Linked DNA regions of Homo sapiens. The protein of the gene in region 2 interacts with the protein of the main gene of each other region in a pairwise test. Each region holds a gene or a part of one and is shown on either strand. Other genes may lie near its edges.

Region 1 (2,887 bases), on a different chromosome or scaffold from region 2:
CATCCCTATAGAAAGTGGATAAAAGATATACCAAAACTGTAATACAGATATATACAAATATAGGTGCCTTTTTGATTACTCTTGTTTGTCTAGTATGCTCTTGGAAAGAAAACCAAGCAAGCAAGTTGCTGCCTATTCTATAGTAATATTTTATTACACATGATTGATATTTTTGTGGTAGGGAAGTGGGATGCTCCTCAGATATTAAAGGTGTTAGCTGATTGTATTTTATCTCTAAAGATTTAGAACTTTAGAAAATGCCGACTTCTTCCATCTATTTCTGAAAGGTTCTTTGTGGATTTATATAGAGTTGAGCTATATAAACATTAACTTTAGATTTGGGATTTAAAATGCCTATTGTAAGATAGAATAATTGTGAGGCTGGATTCACTACACAAGATGAACTTCACTTCATAAATTAATTATACCTTAGCGATTTGCTTCTGATAATCTAAAAGTGGCTAGATTGTGGTTGTTTTGGTTAAGGTGATATGGAGGTGGGAGAGCTTTTAGTTAAGTAAGAAGCTATGTAAACTGACAAGGATGCTAAAATAAAAGTCTCTGAAGTATTCCATGCCTTTTGGACCCTTTCCTCGCAACTAACTGTCAACTGTTGATCAAAAAAGTCAAGGCATTGTATGTTGCTTCTGTGGTTATTATTCTGTGATGCTTAGACTACTTGAACCCATAAACTTGGAAGAATCTTTGAGCAAATTTTCTCAGTTGTCTGTATGACTTCAGTATATTCCTGGGAATGCCATAGGATTTTTTGTGCTTGATACATGGTATCCAGTTTGCATAGTATCACTTCTTTGTAATCCAGTTGCTGTTAAGAATGATGTACTTTAAAGGAAAAGAGAAAACTGCATCACAGTCCCATTCTCCAGTGTCCATGCAATGAATTGCTGAGCATTTAGGAAGCAGCACCAAGTCTATTACAGGCATGGTGTGAAACTTGATGTTTGACCTGTGATCAAAATTGAACCATTGTACAGTTTGGCTTCTGTTTGCTTCAAAATATGTAGAATTGTGGTTGATGATTAATTTGCGAGACTAACTTTGAGAGTGTAACAGTTTTGAAGAAAACATTGAATGTTTTGCAAATGAAGGGGCTTCACGGAATGTTACAATGTTACTAATATAATTTGGCTTTTGTTATGCAAATTGTTAACACCAGCTATTAAAATATATTTTAGTAGAAATGCTTTAATTCATATTTTTTTCCTCTACACTGTGAATCTTTAAGCCTTGGTGGACTAGAGCAACATCGTGCTGCCCAAAGGACTAACCTATGCAAACTAGTTCACATTTTAGTGGATGTCGCAGTTAATGTGTAATAAGACATTATTTCCCCTGCATAATGTACAACAGCATTGAAATGACACATTAAGCCTAGCATCACATTGTATAGTACAGTCACTCACAAACCCTTCAAGGCTACCCTAATCATTAACATTAATATTTGTTTAAAAGCAAATCACCGATTTATCTATTGAAACTACTTAAATGACGGCAAACCAGGAATGACAGATGGCTGTGTCAGCAATGGCTTTAATGTGTTCCCTGCAAGTGGTCTCCTATGATAGAACTGCGTTCTCAAATGCACTCTCTTCAGGGTCTTAATATTCTGTGTTTTCTCTCTGTATTTGTAAAACATTATAACACATTAATTTCCTATCTCTACACATTTGGTTTGCTTAAATAAATGCAGGATATAAAAAAAATGGTTCACTTCTTGGCTCTCACCGTGGTTTCTTGGAGCATGGGTTGTTAGATGCAAGCAATGCACCCTAATAATACCCCGGGTCTGAGATTTAACATGACAACTCACATCAAATCGCATCAGAGGTGTGTGCTGCCTTCAGTGCATTTACATTGGTGAATCAGTCAAGATATTTTCCTCCCCCAAATAAACTTAGTTGTAAGTGATAACAATATTATGCTTCTCCAAGCTCAGTATCTTTCTGATTTTATATCAAAGTACCGCAACAATGCATCATTGTAGTTAATTTATTTCAAGAATAAATTCCTCATATGTCCTCAATAGTACAATTCTAATTTTCTTCTATTCATAAGATGAAAGAAATGGTTTGGAGCATAGAATAGAAAGTGCACAAATTGAGTACATAAAATGGGAAGCAACTGATTTCTCAGCTAAGAAAGGCTCATTTATCACAGAACACAATTGCTTTTCTCCCCCCACTACGCTTCCCATAATTGAAAAAGTGAGTCCCTATTTTTCACACTCATATAAATCTATGCGATTTGGATGCTAGTCTTATTGTATTATTTTGTAAAACTTTCTCTTTGGCTCATAATCCTTCCTAATTGTAAATTGATAAACTTTGCGGATGACATCTGCTCGTAGAATAAACACTTCTTCCAAATATTGGATTTTCTGTTTTTCATATTCCGTAAGTATGAAATGAATATTTTAATAGTATTATGAATCAAGCACACTGTATTTGAAATCACAAGACAGCACAGTTATTTATTTGAAGAATTCACTACCTTTTTTCCCTCTGAGACTTTTTTTTTTTCCATTCGATTATAAATTTACTCTTTGTAACCCAGGCCACAGAGGAAATGAATACCTTAGATTTTTTTTTTTCTGACAAAAAATAATTTAGCTTTTAAACAGACTGTGCTTATAATTTTATTTTCTTAAACATTTGTGAGGTTTTACGGGTAACTATGACATGCGCACCAAACAACTTTTCTACCAAAATAAGTTTCTACAAAAATATATAATAAACTAAAAAGTAGGTAAAAGGGGATTTTTTTTTTTCTTCATATAATCTGCTTTGATATGGTTTGGCTGTGTTCCCACCCAAAATCTCATCTTGAATTGTAATCCCTATAATCTCCATAATCCACACGTGTCAAA
Region 2 (7,000 bases):
TCCTCAGAATGGAATTGGATTAGTGACAGACTTGAGCAGCCGGTTCAGTCGAGAGAGAACTTAATTCCTCCTGTGTTATTCACACGGCTGATTCTAATCAGATGTGAAGAGACAGCTGGAGGAGAGCAGCGGGTCAGCCCATGCCTGGTGCGGAGGCTTCATGTTCTTGTAGGCATCTTCAGGGAACTGGCAGGAGCGCTTTGGGTTGGAGACTCTGAGCAGGGCCCTTGGGTTTATAGCCTGCCCAAGGAACTGGGCCTGGCTGCGGGACTCCCATGGTTGGACCTTGTCTAGATTCAGTGAAAGTTTTGAAGGACAGTGCATGACAGACGTCACTGGTCAGGTTCACCAGAGCTTGGCTCACTTGTCTTCAGAAGGATTCAAAGGCAGTTGACCAGACTTGGCAAGTCCCAGACTGGTGCAGCCACTGTCCTCGAGACCCTGGTTGTACACCCTGAGGTGCTTCTGCTTCATTACCTGCTGAAATTTGGAGACCTCTTCTTCCTGGATAACCTTCAAGATACTCATTGTGCATGCGAGGAATTCCCCGCCCTCCTGGGGGGACTCCACTCCCCAGGCAGGCAAGGTTGGGCAAGGGGAGGGCTGTTGCTGGATTGCCAAAGGGAGCATGGACATTTTTGTTTGGAATTCAGGGTGGGAATGGGACTCACCAGAGTGGCTTCAGTGCTCAACTCACAGTGCAACATAGGACAAGGTGAAGGCCTTCTTGGGAGGCCTCTTCTGGCTCTAGCAAGCAGGTGTTGCTGGGCAGTGTAGAGGGACCCAGGCCGGTTGCTGAGCAGGAAGATGTACCTAACACTGATGGGCCTGCACACCTTAGGGTATGAGAGCATCGCAGGGGAACCAGGAAACTTGTTAGCTGGTTTTCATGTGTTTAAAAAGAAGACTCGGAGGCAGAGTTTATTTTATGAAGGGCTAGCTTTTTGCCATTTCTTCTGAGCTTTTGCCTTTTCCTTTATGAATACTTCCTGCCTATGGGTGTACTGTAAATGTAACAGCCAGTGAGCTTTCTAGAAGCAGCAGATGGTGAAAGATCCACAGGTGAGGAGCCTGCCCACTGGAGGGGCGAGACAGTGCCCAGGCAGGGCGTGCAGGTGGCAGAGCTGTTTGCATGCTCCGCGGGGTGGCTTCCCAAGCTCTCTGTAGAAAAACTGCCTGAGGGCAAATGGCTCCACTGAGCTGCTACCTGCAGGAAAGAAGCTCAAGGGCTCTCCTCGTCTCACTGCCTGCCTTCTTCACCTGCTGGGAGGAGGGCATTGTGGTGTCTGAGATAAAGGATACCCCCAAGGTGGAAGCAGAGCCATGGGGGTGGCCTCCAGCAGCAGGGAGGAGCATTGTGCAGTAAATTCTGACTCCGGGGCTCCTGTGGGGATTGGAACCCATAGGAATTGCACAATGAGGGTAAAGGATGGGGCGGCAGCAGCCAGGTCTGTCTAAGGGGCGAGCAGCAGTGGCCGAAGGCTCCCAGGGCCCTCGGGCAGCAGCCCTTGCTGACCAGTGCAGCCAGGTCGTGGCTGCCTCCAGCTGGTGGGTCTGCCTTCCCCTCTGACCGCCTCAGTGCCTTCTGGAGGACTGTGGCTCTCTCTCCTGCCCAGTGGCTGTGGTGCCTTCCTACTTCTGTGTGGGCAGACTGATTTCCCTCTCTACCTTTACTTGTGGCTGAGGCGAAGCTCCTGCTCTTGCAAGATAAGAGGTGGGGCTGAGGCGCTGCAGTGCAGCTCAGGTGGGGCTCAGGAAGCACCCCACCCACCCCAGAGCACTCTGCATCCTAATAAGCACATGCTCGAGTCACTGGAATCTGGTGCTGCTGGCAGTGCCAGAACCCTCCCCTAGCACCTCGAGGGGACAGCCAGCATGCTCCTCGGGTGGAGGATCCAGGAATTCTTGGAGCCAACATTGCACAAATGGGCAGGAGCCTCTCAAGGCCCCCACAGCCTGGGCTCCCTGCCTGGGGAAGTGGCCAGGCTTCATAGGGGCATCACTTGGCCCGCCTGGTAGGCATGGAGGCCAGTGCCATACGTGACCTTGTTGTTGCCTGCACCCCTTCCTAACGAGCACCCTGCTCCCCACTGGAAGGAGAGGGGCCAGGGCTCCTCCCTCCCCAGGGAGGGGAGAAACGTGATGTTGCTATTAGCAATAACAGCTGCCGAGTTCCCACCATGCGCCAGGTGCAGTGTTGAGTGCATCACACGCGGTTCCCAATTCCTCTGCCTGTCACCCCACGAGGAAGGGGCTGCCATCACGCCCGCTTCACAGTGAGGAACTGAGGCTAGAGGGGAGCAAGTGACCTGCCCAGGGCCACACAGCTGGTCAGTGGCCCAGCTGGGCCTTGCACCAGGCAGCTGACTGTGCCTGTATCTGACTCAAAGTGGCTGTTCTTTTCAGAAACCTGAGCGGAGATACTGGGCTCACATGCTTTCATTTAAACCCTCTCTCATTTTTGCCCCAGTAGTTATCTGGCAGCTAAATCTCTTCCTCCTTTCTTCCCCAGTGACCATTCTGGTTCCCATCATCACAGGGCACATAACTCCTGGCCCTTCTCCTCTGATTACATTTAGGGAGAAGCCCATCCTGATGCAGCTCCCTTCTAGAGGGAGTTCCATTTAGGCAAAAAAGCGCTCTCCATTCCCATCAGAACCGGGCTTTCCAAAGGGCTCTGAAATTGGTTCCACTGAAGAAGGCAGCTGAGCTGCCTCCCCACATTCCGCTTGTTAGTCGGGAACTTCAAGGCCAAAAGATTTGGCAGGATTTAAAGAGTTGCTCTCAAGCTGTCTCATTCTGAGCACACTAATGCTGTCTGTCTTCTGATGGTGAAGTGGTGGGTTTGGAGTCTCCCTCCCCTGCCCTTTATGGAGCCGCCGATAGTACCGAGGACTCTTCACATGCAGACTCGAGGGGTCCAGAGAATGGGCCAGACCATCTTGCCTGCCCCATGGCAACCTCCAGAGGAAAGAGGCTCAGAGAGGTCAGGGGTGTCTGCAGTGAGCTGCTGATGGCAGAGAGTGAGCTCTCGGACCTTCTCAGCCGGGTGTGGAGCTCTTGCCTCTCCCGCGAACCTCAGTTTAGTTATCTTCATAGCCCACGTCCTGGTCGCTTAACAAACATTGAGCTCCTGATCGGCACATAACACTAAGCCAGATATTTGGGGGATATGAAGATGAATGGTACAGACTCCCTCCCCTCCACCCCCGCACTCCTGTGGGAAGTCCCGGAGCTGGAAATGGAACACAGTCACACCCAAGGCATTGATTTCAGGAGTCAGCAGAGAGCAGGGAGTAGGGAGAGTGCTGGCTCCAGATGCTTCTATCCAGGGAGATGCTGGGAAGTGGCCCAGAGTCAAGGGCTTAGGAGGTTGCAAACCTCACTATGCCAAGAGCTCGGTCCCTGATCCACCCCATCCCCTTCCACATCTCCCTGACTGTCCTTCTTTACATTTGCTGGGCAGAGTGCCACCTGTGTGCACCAGCCCTCCCTGCCTGCACAAGCCACACTGAGAAAGCCGTTGCCTCCAGCTCATGGAGAGAAACACCTTCTCAGCTGCCACGTCATGAGCAAGTTTGCTTCGGGACCACCTGGGAAACCAGGAGTAGAAGGGGTAAACTCTTCCTCATCTGCCACAGGCCTGCCTTGCCTCAGGCCACGTCACCTTACCCCAGCCATGTTGCCAGGGCATGAGGACTAAGATGCTTGCCCTGCCAAGCCCGGAGGGGATGAGCAGCCTCAGCTGGTGCCGCCACAGACAGCACACCACAGAGGTGGCTCAGGGACCTTGGTAGATGGGAATGTGAGAATCTATTAAAATAGGCAGGGATCTCCGGTCCTCTGTCAAGAGGCAATGCTGACGGCTTTTTCCTGCTGGCGTGCCTCTGCCCACCAGCCTTCCCCTTGCACATCCTCATTTGTCACCTCCTAATTTGAATTATTGGGCAAATCTGGCCGCTTATTTGGGACTGACAGCCAACTTCTTGAGCATCTATTTGAACAGCCTTCCCTTTCGCTCCCAGCCACCTTTGAGGTGAGTCCAAGTGGCAGGACAGGACCCTGTGTGACAGAGCGGAGGTCTTGTGCCCTCTCAGCTTCTTCTCTGCTTTCTTACAGCTCACCTTGCAGAGCGCCAAGTCCCGAGTGGCCTTCTTTGAAGAGCTCTAGCAGGTGACCCAGCCACCCCAGGACCTGCCACTTCTCCTGCTACCGGGACCGCGGGATGGACCAGATATCAAGAGAGCCATCCATAGGGAGCTGGCTGGGGGTTTCCGTGGGAGCTCCAGAACTTTCCCCAGCTGAGTGAAGAGCCCAGCCCCTCTTATGTGCAATTGCCTTGAACTACGACCCTGTAGAGATTTCTCTCATGGCGTTCTAGTTCTCTGACCTGAGTCTTTGTTTTAAGAAGTATTTGTCTTCCTTTGTCTAATGTGGGATTCCTGACTCCCTTCGTCCAAGGCACCGGTGTGTGTGTGTCTTGCACTCCAGAGCTGACCTCCACCGCCCAGCCTGGGAAGTCATTGTAGGGAGTGAGACACTGAAGCCCTGAGAAGCCAGTGCCATCATCCCCACCCCGCCCAGGGTTCCGGAACATTCATTCCCCCACCGGTGAGGACCTGGCATGCAGCGAAGCAGCCCAGCCCGGCGGATCCCAGGCCAGCACGCCTGCCGGCTTCTCATCGTCAGGGAGCCCGCCCAGAGCTCGTGACGAGCAAGTGCTGGGTCCCCGCCAGGCACCCCGAGGCGGCGCTCTGGCTGGCAGCTGGTGGGGAATAGGCAGGGCAGCTGTGGCTGGGGAGAGACTTTAGGCAGAAGCTGTGATGCAGGCTGACTGCCAGCCGAGGGGCTGGGTAGTGCCGTGCGGGAGCTGATGGTACAGGGCACTCGCTGTCCCCCTCCGGCCACCCTAGACCAGGGTCCGAGAGGCAGGCAGGAGCCACTCATGTCTTCCCCATTGCCCGACGCCCATAGACGCTCCTTCCTGTGTGGGGCTGGGGTACTCCCTGGTCGTACTGCAGTCAGCACCCGTAACCCGGCTATGACCAGGGATCTGTAAGCCCTGTGGCTCCACAGGTGCTGCTTCTCACTGGCCCAGACTCTGAGCTCCACCGGCCCAGTCTGCACGGCCCATCTGCTTCACCTTCCCTCCCAGCCACGTGCCAGTGGCCACAGCCCACTTCCCAACCCACTGTTGTACCCAGGCCTCACTTTGCTGTTGCCCTTGTCCCTCTTCGGGCCCTGAATTTTCTGTTCCCTGGGGGCCAGCCAGGGCCCTTTGTGCCCCTCCCAGCACAGGCCTGATGCAGGTGTCCACTCACAGGTGGCGCTCACCTAGGCTGTCACAGGACCCACCTCCATGCCAGGCAACAGAGGGCCACAGAACCACCCCCACGGCTCACTCCTTGGTCTGGGGCCACCTTCTTGCCCTTTCTTTTTTTTTTTTTTTTTTTTTTTCCGAGATGGAGTCTCTCTCTGTCACCCAGGTGGGAGTGTGGTGGCACAATCTCGGCTCACTGCAACCTCCACCTCCTGAGTTCAAGCAATTCTCCTGCCTCAGCCTCCCAAGTAGCTGGGACTACAGGCATGCACCACCACACTTGGCCAATGTTCTGTATTTTTAATAGGGACGGGGTTTTGCCATGTTAGCTAGGCTGGTCTCAAACTCACACCTGGGATTACAGGCATGAGCCACTGCACCCAGCCCCTTCTTGCCCTTTCTTTTCTCCATGGCTGATGCTGCTGTGGCCAGCCAGGGCCCTTGAGATCCTTCCAGTTTGGCTGTTATGCAAAGCAGGTGATTTGTCTTAATCAGATAAAAGATAGAGGCTATGGGGGCCTCAAGATTTTTGGAGAGCAGAGGTGGTCTCTGGCAATTCCATCTGGTTTTGAGAAACTTAGCAGCTCACAGAGCACAGAGATCCTGCCTTCTTCCTACTATCAGGCTGACCTAATGGGGTTGGGCTGCTCGGCAACTGCTTGGGTCACCTTGCCCCAAGGAAACCAGCCCTGGGTGCCACCCAGCCACTTAGGGTCTACAGGGTGGGACTCCAGACCTAGAGCGTAAGTATGGATGTTGTGGCCCTGTGTCTTCCTAGTGTGACCCAGCCAGGAGCGGAAGCTTCAGGCGTTTGTAAAGTGAGGTCTGGCTCTGCCTCCTCCGTTTTTTTTTTTTTTCTGTTTCTGTTTCTGTTTTTTTTTTGAGATGGAGTCTCGCTCTGTCGCCCAGGCTGGAGTGCAGTGTCACGATCTCAGCTCACTGCAACCTCCGCCTCCCAGGTACAAGAGATTCTCCTGCCTCAGCCTCCCGAGTAGCTGGGACTACAGGCGTGTGCCACCATGCCTGGCTAATTTTTGTATTTTTAGTAGAGATGGGGTTTCGCCATGTTAGCCAGACTGGTCTCGAACTCCTGACCTCAGGTGATCCTCCCACCCCGGCTTCCCAAAGTTCTGGGATTATAGGCGTGAGCCACCATGCCCGGTCTCTTCTCAGTCTTGAAGCCCATCCCTGGATTTCCACCAGGAGTTACTTTCCTCCTGACCTGTAAATTTGTTCTTTAACAATGGCTGCAGGTGGGAGCATATGGTGGTTTATAAAAACGCTGTCGGGCTTTGTTTCCTTCTTTAGCTGCCGTGTCTACTTCTGAAGTCTGGGAAGTGCCAAGCCACGCGGCCTCAAGGGAGCTGGCTGGTGTTTGAGCTGTGGCAGAAGCACCTGGGGCTCCAGGGAGCAGGCTGGGAACTGCAGGACCTTGCTCAGCCAGGAGCACTTCCCCCTCCTTGAGGCAGGAATACTGAGGTGCCTCCCCACAGATGGAGAAGGTGGAGAGGAGGATGGGCCTCAGGAGCATCTCAAGCCCCAGTAGCAGGAGAAAGAAAGAAAGAGATGCCTGGTTTTCACAGACTGGTTCCTGTGGCTGGGATGACTGCATCCTTTTTTTTTTTTTTTTGAGACGGAGTTTTTGCCTTTGTCGCCCAGGCTGGAGTGCAATGGCGTGAT
Region 3 (7,833 bases), on a different chromosome or scaffold from region 2:
GCTTTCACTATGAGTGACATGGGAAGCCACTGAAAGGTTCTGAGCAGTGGAATGACATGAAATGACATTTTAAAAGTCTCACAGTGGCCACTGTGTTAATAATGGGGAGGGGGGAGTGGAAGCAAAAATAGAAGCAGGAAAACCCTTAGGTTATTGCAGTAATCCAGCTAAGAGATGATGGTGAGTTGGTGTCATGCAAAAATGCCAATCATCTTGCCCAAGGTCACATAACTAGCAAGTGGTGGAACTAGGTTTGACACACAGTCAGAGATCAGTCACTGCTGGACACGCTCTTAAAAATGTTCCTATGAATAAAATCAGGAAGCAAATATTAAAGTCCTCATTTTGAAAAAGTTATTAAAAGGCATTTTTTTTGAGAAGCTGTGGTGGGAGGATCATTCAAAGCCACGAGTTCAAGACCAGTGTGGGCAATATAGTGAGACCACATCTCTACAAAAATTTAAAAGATAAAAATAGCCAGATGTGGTTGTACACACCTGTAGCTACTCAAGAGGCTGAGGCAGCTGGATTGCTTGACCCCAGGAGTTGGAGGTTACAATGAGCTATGATTGTACCACTGCACTCCAGCCTGTACTACAGAACATAACTCTGTCTCTTAAAAAAAAAAAAAAAGCAAAGAAAAGAAAAAAGAAAAAGGCTGGGCATGTTGGCTTATGCCTGTAATCCCAGCACTTTGGGAGGCCGAGGCGGGTGGATCACAAGGTCAGAAGTTCGAGAACAGCCTGGCCAATATGGTGAAACCCTGTCTCTACAAAAAAAATTAGCCAGGCATGGTGGTGCATGCCTGTAATCCCTGCTACTTGGGAGGCTGAGGCAGGAGAATTGCTTGAACCCACGAGGCGGAGGTTGCAGTGAGGCGAGATTGTGCCACTGCACTCCAGCCTGGGTGACAGAGCGAGACTCTGTCTCAAAAAAAAAGAAAAAAGAAAGAAAAAATGGTAAGTTTATTTCACCTTGCCACTTGCTTATTAAACTGAGAAGTCTCTAGGCTTTTGTGGCAATGTGCTCCTCCCCTGTCTGGATATATTTTCAAAAAGCCTACAAAATGTTCAGATAGATTGGATGCAGGATGTAAGAGAAAGAAGAGTCAAGGATGACTCCAAGATTTTTGATCTGGAGAATAAAAGGTGTTATTAATTGTAACAGGGAAGGCAAGTTTTGCAGGGAAAATCATAAACTAAGCTATCCTGATCAAACAGGTCAGGTGAAGAAGGAGGTAACTATTATGCATACAAGCAGAGATGACAATTAAGCAATTAATACAGGAGTCTCGAGTCCAGGGATATGGTCCATTCCTAGTGCCCCTGGTGAACTGAGTGCTAAATATTCTGATTGTCACAAGCTGTTAAAATAAATATTTTGAATATTACTTTTGCTAATGTATATTAACTGCATTGCAGTTTCCAATCTCTCCCATTTAATACATGATGAACTAAAACCAATTAAAAAACCACTTTGATCATGTAATTCCTTTGCCCAAAGGTCTTTAGTAACTCCATATGGCCTATAAGGTCAACATTTCTTAATCTGAAATTAAAATCTTTTATGATTTCATCCAAATAAACTTTGAAAATACCACACGGACCCTACTCTAGGTAAACTGGATTTGTCAGAATCCTTCATAACTAGGCTTGCCCAGTTGTGTTCTGTTTCTTACTGTGCTCCCTTTGCAGCATTTATAGCTCAGCTTTCACTCTCTGTCAAAATCCTATCTACCCTTCAAGGCCCAGCAGAAACTCTGACTCTTTCCATAGCTATTAAAGGTGATAATGAGCACTCTCTCCTCTGAATTCTTACAGGCTTTATTGTCTCTATCATTCATTTCCTGGTCTTCATTTACTGTTTAGTTTTTCAAATATATATATATTGACATACACACAGCCACACACACATATGTATGTGTGTGTACATTTCATCATAAGCAGGGAATTTTTGCTTTTGTTTTCCTTTGGAACCCACACAATGTCAAGTACAGGGTGAGTGATGCATAAATTGTGGATTTCCCTTTCCTTTTGTCATGTTATTTGTTTCATAAATAATTTGATTGATGGTCCTATCTTTAAAACCAAATTGTTATTACTATATAAGCTCAGATAGCAACCCTAGGAGAAGGATACTATTACTATCCCATTGTATAAAATGGAAATTGAGCCTTAGAGACCTTAAGCATCTTAGATGACCAAAGGCACAAGCAGTGAGTGGCAGAGCCAAGCTGTGAGTCCAGATAATCTAATTCTAGAGCTAGATCTTTTAGTCATTACTAATCCTCTCTTTCCTACCTACATAGCACATACACTTAAAAATTCATGCAAATAGATTCAGGAAACAAAGAAGGTTTTTCAGCTCCCATTGTAAAAGCATAAAAAGGAAAAAGGCATGTTTCTTTTACCTGCCAAAGAATGCCTCCAATAACTTATAGAAATATAGTACTCTCCTCTTGGACTAATTTTAAGATAATTATTGTCCACCAGAATGATGGTTATAGACCAGTGACTGGTAGTCCTTGTTCCTTTACCACATTTCCCTTTGTTAATTTTAATTTTCTTTCCTCTGTATAATATTTTAGTGACTTCAGAAATGAAGACTCTTCACAACAGCCTTGGAAACATGGAATGACACCTCTGTTTCTCTGAAAGTGATTTCAGCTAGTGATACTTCTCATGAAACAAAGCTTGACTAAAAGCCAGACTCTTAAAATATGTGGCACAATGTGAGAGGGATGGAGGTGAAGTGAACAGAGCATATGTAACAGAAAAGACCCAATTAATTCTTAGGGATGGCATATTGAAAGTCTCATTTTTCTGAAACCAAACTTGTGGCTCTTCAGAAGAGTTATTACTTATTCATAAATAACCATATGGCTCTCTTGAGCTAATAGAAAATCTGTTTGTTGTTTATCTGCATAACAGAAGAGGCAAAGGAATTGTAAAGAAAGAAGCAAAGGTATAGAATTTCCATTTAATAGAAGCCATCACACCTAACAATGTATGTGCATCAGGATATTTTACAGGGGAGACTCAAGAGGCACAATGCCAAGGATGGTATTTCCTGGCAAGAAAATGTTCTTCCCACCCACTTTTCTAGGTCAATGTTACCACATCCCTATACAAATACAAAGTTAAAGCTGAAGAGAACCTTACACTATATAAAACTATGGAGTGTGTATGTGCATGGTATGTTTCAGAAGAAAAATATTCTTACAATAGAGTTTTCTTTTTCTTTTCTGATGAGCAGATTTTAGTGTTGATAAAGTGTCAGTTCAGGAAATCGCTGCTTCTGTACCCTAAAGTCAGATCTTATGTGAGTTATAACTTTTTACTTTCAGAACCCTGAATGAACAATTTGATTCCTACCTGTATTTTTGGATTTTGCCTTAAAGCAGCGTCACTCCCTTTCACTCAAGCGTAGACCCAAACATAACAAGAAACCAGAAGAAAGTAAACACACACACACACACACACACACACACACACAAACTAGCAAAAAGTTCATCGATTTTGTAAATCATTATATAGATATTCATTCATTTATTCATGTAGCAAAATGTGTTGAATGCCTGCTGTGTGCCAGACAGCTCAGTGCCTGGGTGCGTGGACACAGAGATTAACACAAGAACATGGAAATATGTAATCGTAATGCATGATGAAGTGCTCTCCTTAGCTGATTAGAGGAAGTCAAGAGAAGATCAGAAGGAAAGAGAGGCATTGACTTAGGTTTTCCCCGTCATAAGGTTGGATGGAGGGCCCAGAGAGGAGACATCTGAGGTGGCAAGAACAGCATGCACAGAGCTCAGGGGCGTAGAACCATCTCACTCATTTCAGGAAAGGGAGGTCAGTCAGGATGGTTGGAGCACAGGGGAGAGTTGGAGAGTAGGGGGAGATATTCAGGAGAAATGGGAGGGCCAAATGTGGGACACTCAATCACTCTCTTTTGAATTTTAGGAGTTTTAGGCTTTATCCTATATATATGTGAATATCTCGTAGGCAGGTTAATGAAGTTAAATGATTGACCATAAATTCTTTTCTCTTTTTAGTTACACATTCTTTCCTTTTTTGTATTCCTTGCCTCTTTCCTTTTGTTCCAAGTCCAAAATGAGGTCTTCTGTTCCATCGCAGTTCACTTATGCAGCTCCAAGTATCTGCCATTTCCACGCTTTTATCTGTACTACCCAGTAGTGCTCCATTACCTCAAGGCTCCTAAAATGATAACAGTCAAATAATTAAAGTGAAAATGATTCTCCATGAGAAGATTTCACTTCAAATGAGTCATGGAGACAATCTGGACTTGATTTATAGAAAAGACAGACTTAAACTTGAGACAAGTTTAACCTTTCTGCCAATATAGAAGATTAGATTTGCAAACAATGCCCATTTTCTTTACAATGAATTATTTTCCCTTTTATTTCTATAAGAATTAGTGGCACTTATATTATTATGTATTATGAATTATGTATGACTCATTAAGTTCTACCAAGCTACACTCACATTTAGAAGGTATTGCCAGAAAATCTCGCCTTTAGGGAAACCGAGCTGTCAAAAAGTCAACAGTTACCTAATTGCTCTGGGAAATACAATGAATTTATAACAGTTAGGCTACTGAGGAAACACTTGGATTGCCCAGGCTTTCTGTGGTGGAGAACTTCCTCCTCCAGTGGGAGAAACTGCCAGTAAAGGAAGAATGACGATTTACATACTATAGCAAGGCTAATCTGCCCCAGGTCTTAGTCACGGCCTGCCTATTTGAGACATCCTGGGAAATCCCTATTTGGAAGAGAAGAAAAGTTAAAATCCCAGTTGCAGTGCTTATAACTTTATTCTGTGTAATTCCTATCCACAGTCACTTCTGTTCATTTTTAATGAAAACCTATTGCTGTTATTTTCTATTATGAGTTAACGGTGATGTGTGTTTTTTAAATTTTGTATACTTGCTCTCACCCTAAAATATACCTTAAGAGACTTTTCCCCTGTTTTTCTTTCTGCTTTCCAAGACTCCAGGAAAAACAGCTTCCATGGCACATTTTGTACAGGGCACATCTAGAATGATTGCCGCAGAAAGTTCTACGGAGCATAAAGAGGTAAGAACATATTTCTAGGAGATGAGTTGATCACATCTAGCATTGATGGCATTTCTAGTGGTTAATTGTGCACTTATTAATAAGAACAGAAATGGCTAGTTTGCTTTCTTTAGCTAAGATTTGCTCTATATTTTTAACCAAAATTATGTAACATAGAAAAAAATATCTAAGTAACCAGTACATTGCTTTTAACCCACGGGGCTTAAATTCCTTTCAGCCTTCCAGTTCTGTGGGTTCCTTATTTTGTTCTTGATTTTTGTTCTATAAAAATCTTAAAAGAATACTATATTGGTGTAGGTAGAAATAGAACATATTGTAACAATAGAGTATCTGTAGTAATATTTTTATATATTTACAATTGGTACCATAGATTTTGTTCAGCAACAGAGACTACTGCTAATTGAATGAATGAATTCAAATATTTTCTAGTTTTCTTTTACAGATAACCAAGGTATAATGGGAAACTAAATGGAAACTTCTATTCATTTAAGTTTTTAATTTAGTAGCATCAGACCTTGAATATACATTGGTAAGGATGTTATCATAGAGAAAGAAGTGCCCAGATGCTTTGAACAGAAATTCTACTTTATAGGGAATAATTATAGGAAATTATGTATAGGGAATAACTGTTCCGTAAGCAGCCCTTGCTAGAATCAATGACTGAAAATCTTTGTAGTTACTGCAAATCAGATGCCTTCATTAGCAACTGTAAAGCAAAGTAAATACAAATTGAAAAGGTCCCCCAAACCTTTGTATTTGATTAATTTCGCTTTATTTTATAGAAACCTGAGACATATGAACTATAACAAAATGTTGATTAATCTCCAGAGAAAGCTTTGGTGATACATTTGTGACTTACATGCCATTCCTAGTCACTATGTTTTCTATTTTTCCTCCCTCCTATCCTCCCCCACCTATAACTGAATATTACTTATGAATTTCAAAAACTAGTACTCGTGCAGTTACAAATAGAGCCTCTTGCAGATTTGGTATCTAGATTTTCAGTAATTTTTATTTATTAAAGAAAAATCAAGGGTGAAATGTATTATAATTTTCTTCCAGAGAAAATTGTTTATGGGGAAACAAACAAAAAGCACACTGTCTCATTGTTCCACATCTGGGCTCCCAAAGGCAGGGACATACAAATGTTTGCCAATCACGGATTTTTGTCTACATCACAAACAGAGAGGAGACATTTTTGAGGACCCATAATTTATTCCCTAGAATGGGAATATATTGAACTTTAGTATGAATCAAAATTACCTAGGAAATGTATTAGAAATAGAGGTGCCCTGGCTGCTCTTCTAGAAATTCTGATCCATTGTTCAGGATGCTCTATGTTTAGCAAGCTTAACGGTGACTTTGATGTGCTCTTGTGGTGGGAACCACCATTCTAAAATCCAGTCTTACTGTGCCCCTACTTTGCTGATGACCTCAAGATACACTAAGTAGGGTTGGCTCACAGCATTTTCCAGATCAAAGATGCTTAATAGTTAGTCTGTTCTAACCCAGAATGGGTCCAGTTTCTTGGAAGTCTTCCCCAAAAGAAGAAGGTCCAATTACGGGCCCCAACATACTTGACACTTGGGTTTCAGTGTCACTCTTGGTGCTCAGCCAGAACACCTTCTTGAGGTCAAGAGCAAATATAATCATTCAGAATTTATTGACCCACAGAAGACTGTCTCTTTTTAAATGTGGTCTTAATTGTAACATAGGTCTAAATAGGAAGAAGCTAAGGAAACGAGAACATCTCTGCTTACTTAAAATACCATCAAACCCTAAAATGCTGAAACATAAACAAACAGAGAAAAGATAGAAAATACAGTTTTATAAATAATTTCTGATGAAAAAAGGTGCTTGAAATCCCATGATGATTGCAAAGAACAATTTCCTGTACACATTTCTGGCAAAGACCAACAACATGTTTTGAAAATATTTCTTAATGGTTCACAAATAGCTTTAAGCAACTTAGTGATCCACAGTAACTATTAAGCCTGAAACAGATTACAGATGTAGGAATTACTCTCATCATCCAATAAATTGTATTACTTATATGACTCTGAGATGAGATAGTAATAAGACTATTGAATTATTATAGAGGATCCAGTCCTTTATTTAAGTAAATATTGTTCTTAGTCGATTTAGGCAGATGGCAGACAGCTTCCACAGCTTTTGTGTTATCTTTAAATGAATACTCTCACTCCTGAAAAAAATAACTGAAAAGAAAGGTGGTAAATTTTCATTATGCCAGTAATTTATTATTAATCTAAACTAGTAACCTAGTGACTTTATTCAAAGAGCTGGCTAAAATTACACAGTAATTACACAGTAATGGCTGTATGTGTTTGTCTTTTTCTCGATGATTTTGTCGTTCCTCTGACGTTTACTGGGTCTACTTTTCAGAATATTACTCACATACATGTTCATGGGCACAGCTACCAAAATGACTTTTATGAAATGTTTACTATAAAAATACCTAAAATATATCCATGAAACTTACCTGATTTCTGAATTGTCATTTTTTTGGAAAAGGATTGAAATCCAAATTCATAAAATTTTAATCTCTGACTTACCCGTTATAGTATACAGATATATTTATAATTTATTAAAGAATTATATTGGTAACTAATTTATGTAAAGCATTCTAAAACATAATATGAAGCTGACTCATCCACCAGCCATGATGAAGGACTTAGGGTATGAGGATTATTACTGCTAGAATCAGGTATTTTTTAAAT

Evidence for each region. Proteins that work in one complex are often made in the same cells at the same time.
Region 1: the proteins of NF2 (region 2) and NEBL interact in binary tests that used the Homo sapiens proteins (3 or more experiments, as listed by UniProt).
Region 3: the proteins of NF2 (region 2) and TNIP3 interact in binary tests that used the Homo sapiens proteins (3 or more experiments, as listed by UniProt).

What each region holds. Positions count from the first base shown.
Region 1 is NC_000010.11:20,779,473-20,782,359, reverse strand, and holds the end of NEBL (nebulette), read left to right. Parts: 3' UTR 1-2,387; downstream 2,388-2,887. UniProt on the Homo sapiens protein: Binds to actin and plays an important role in the assembly of the Z-disk. May functionally link sarcomeric actin to the desmin intermediate filaments in the heart muscle sarcomeres.
Region 2 is NC_000022.11:29,690,633-29,697,632, forward strand, and holds part of NF2 (merlin), read left to right. Parts: intron 1-4,119; coding exon 4,120-4,170; coding exon of another isoform or gene 4,171-4,177; 3' UTR 4,178-7,000. UniProt on the Homo sapiens protein: Probable regulator of the Hippo/SWH (Sav/Wts/Hpo) signaling pathway, a signaling pathway that plays a pivotal role in tumor suppression by restricting proliferation and promoting apoptosis.
Region 3 is NC_000004.12:121,161,322-121,169,154, reverse strand, and holds the start of TNIP3 (TNFAIP3-interacting protein 3), read left to right. Parts: upstream 1-4,833; 5' UTR 4,834-5,008; coding exon of another isoform or gene 5,009-5,029; coding exon 5,030-5,095; intron 5,096-7,833. UniProt on the Homo sapiens protein: Binds to zinc finger protein TNFAIP3 and inhibits NF-kappa-B activation induced by tumor necrosis factor, Toll-like receptor 4 (TLR4), interleukin-1 and 12-O-tetradecanoylphorbol-13-acetate.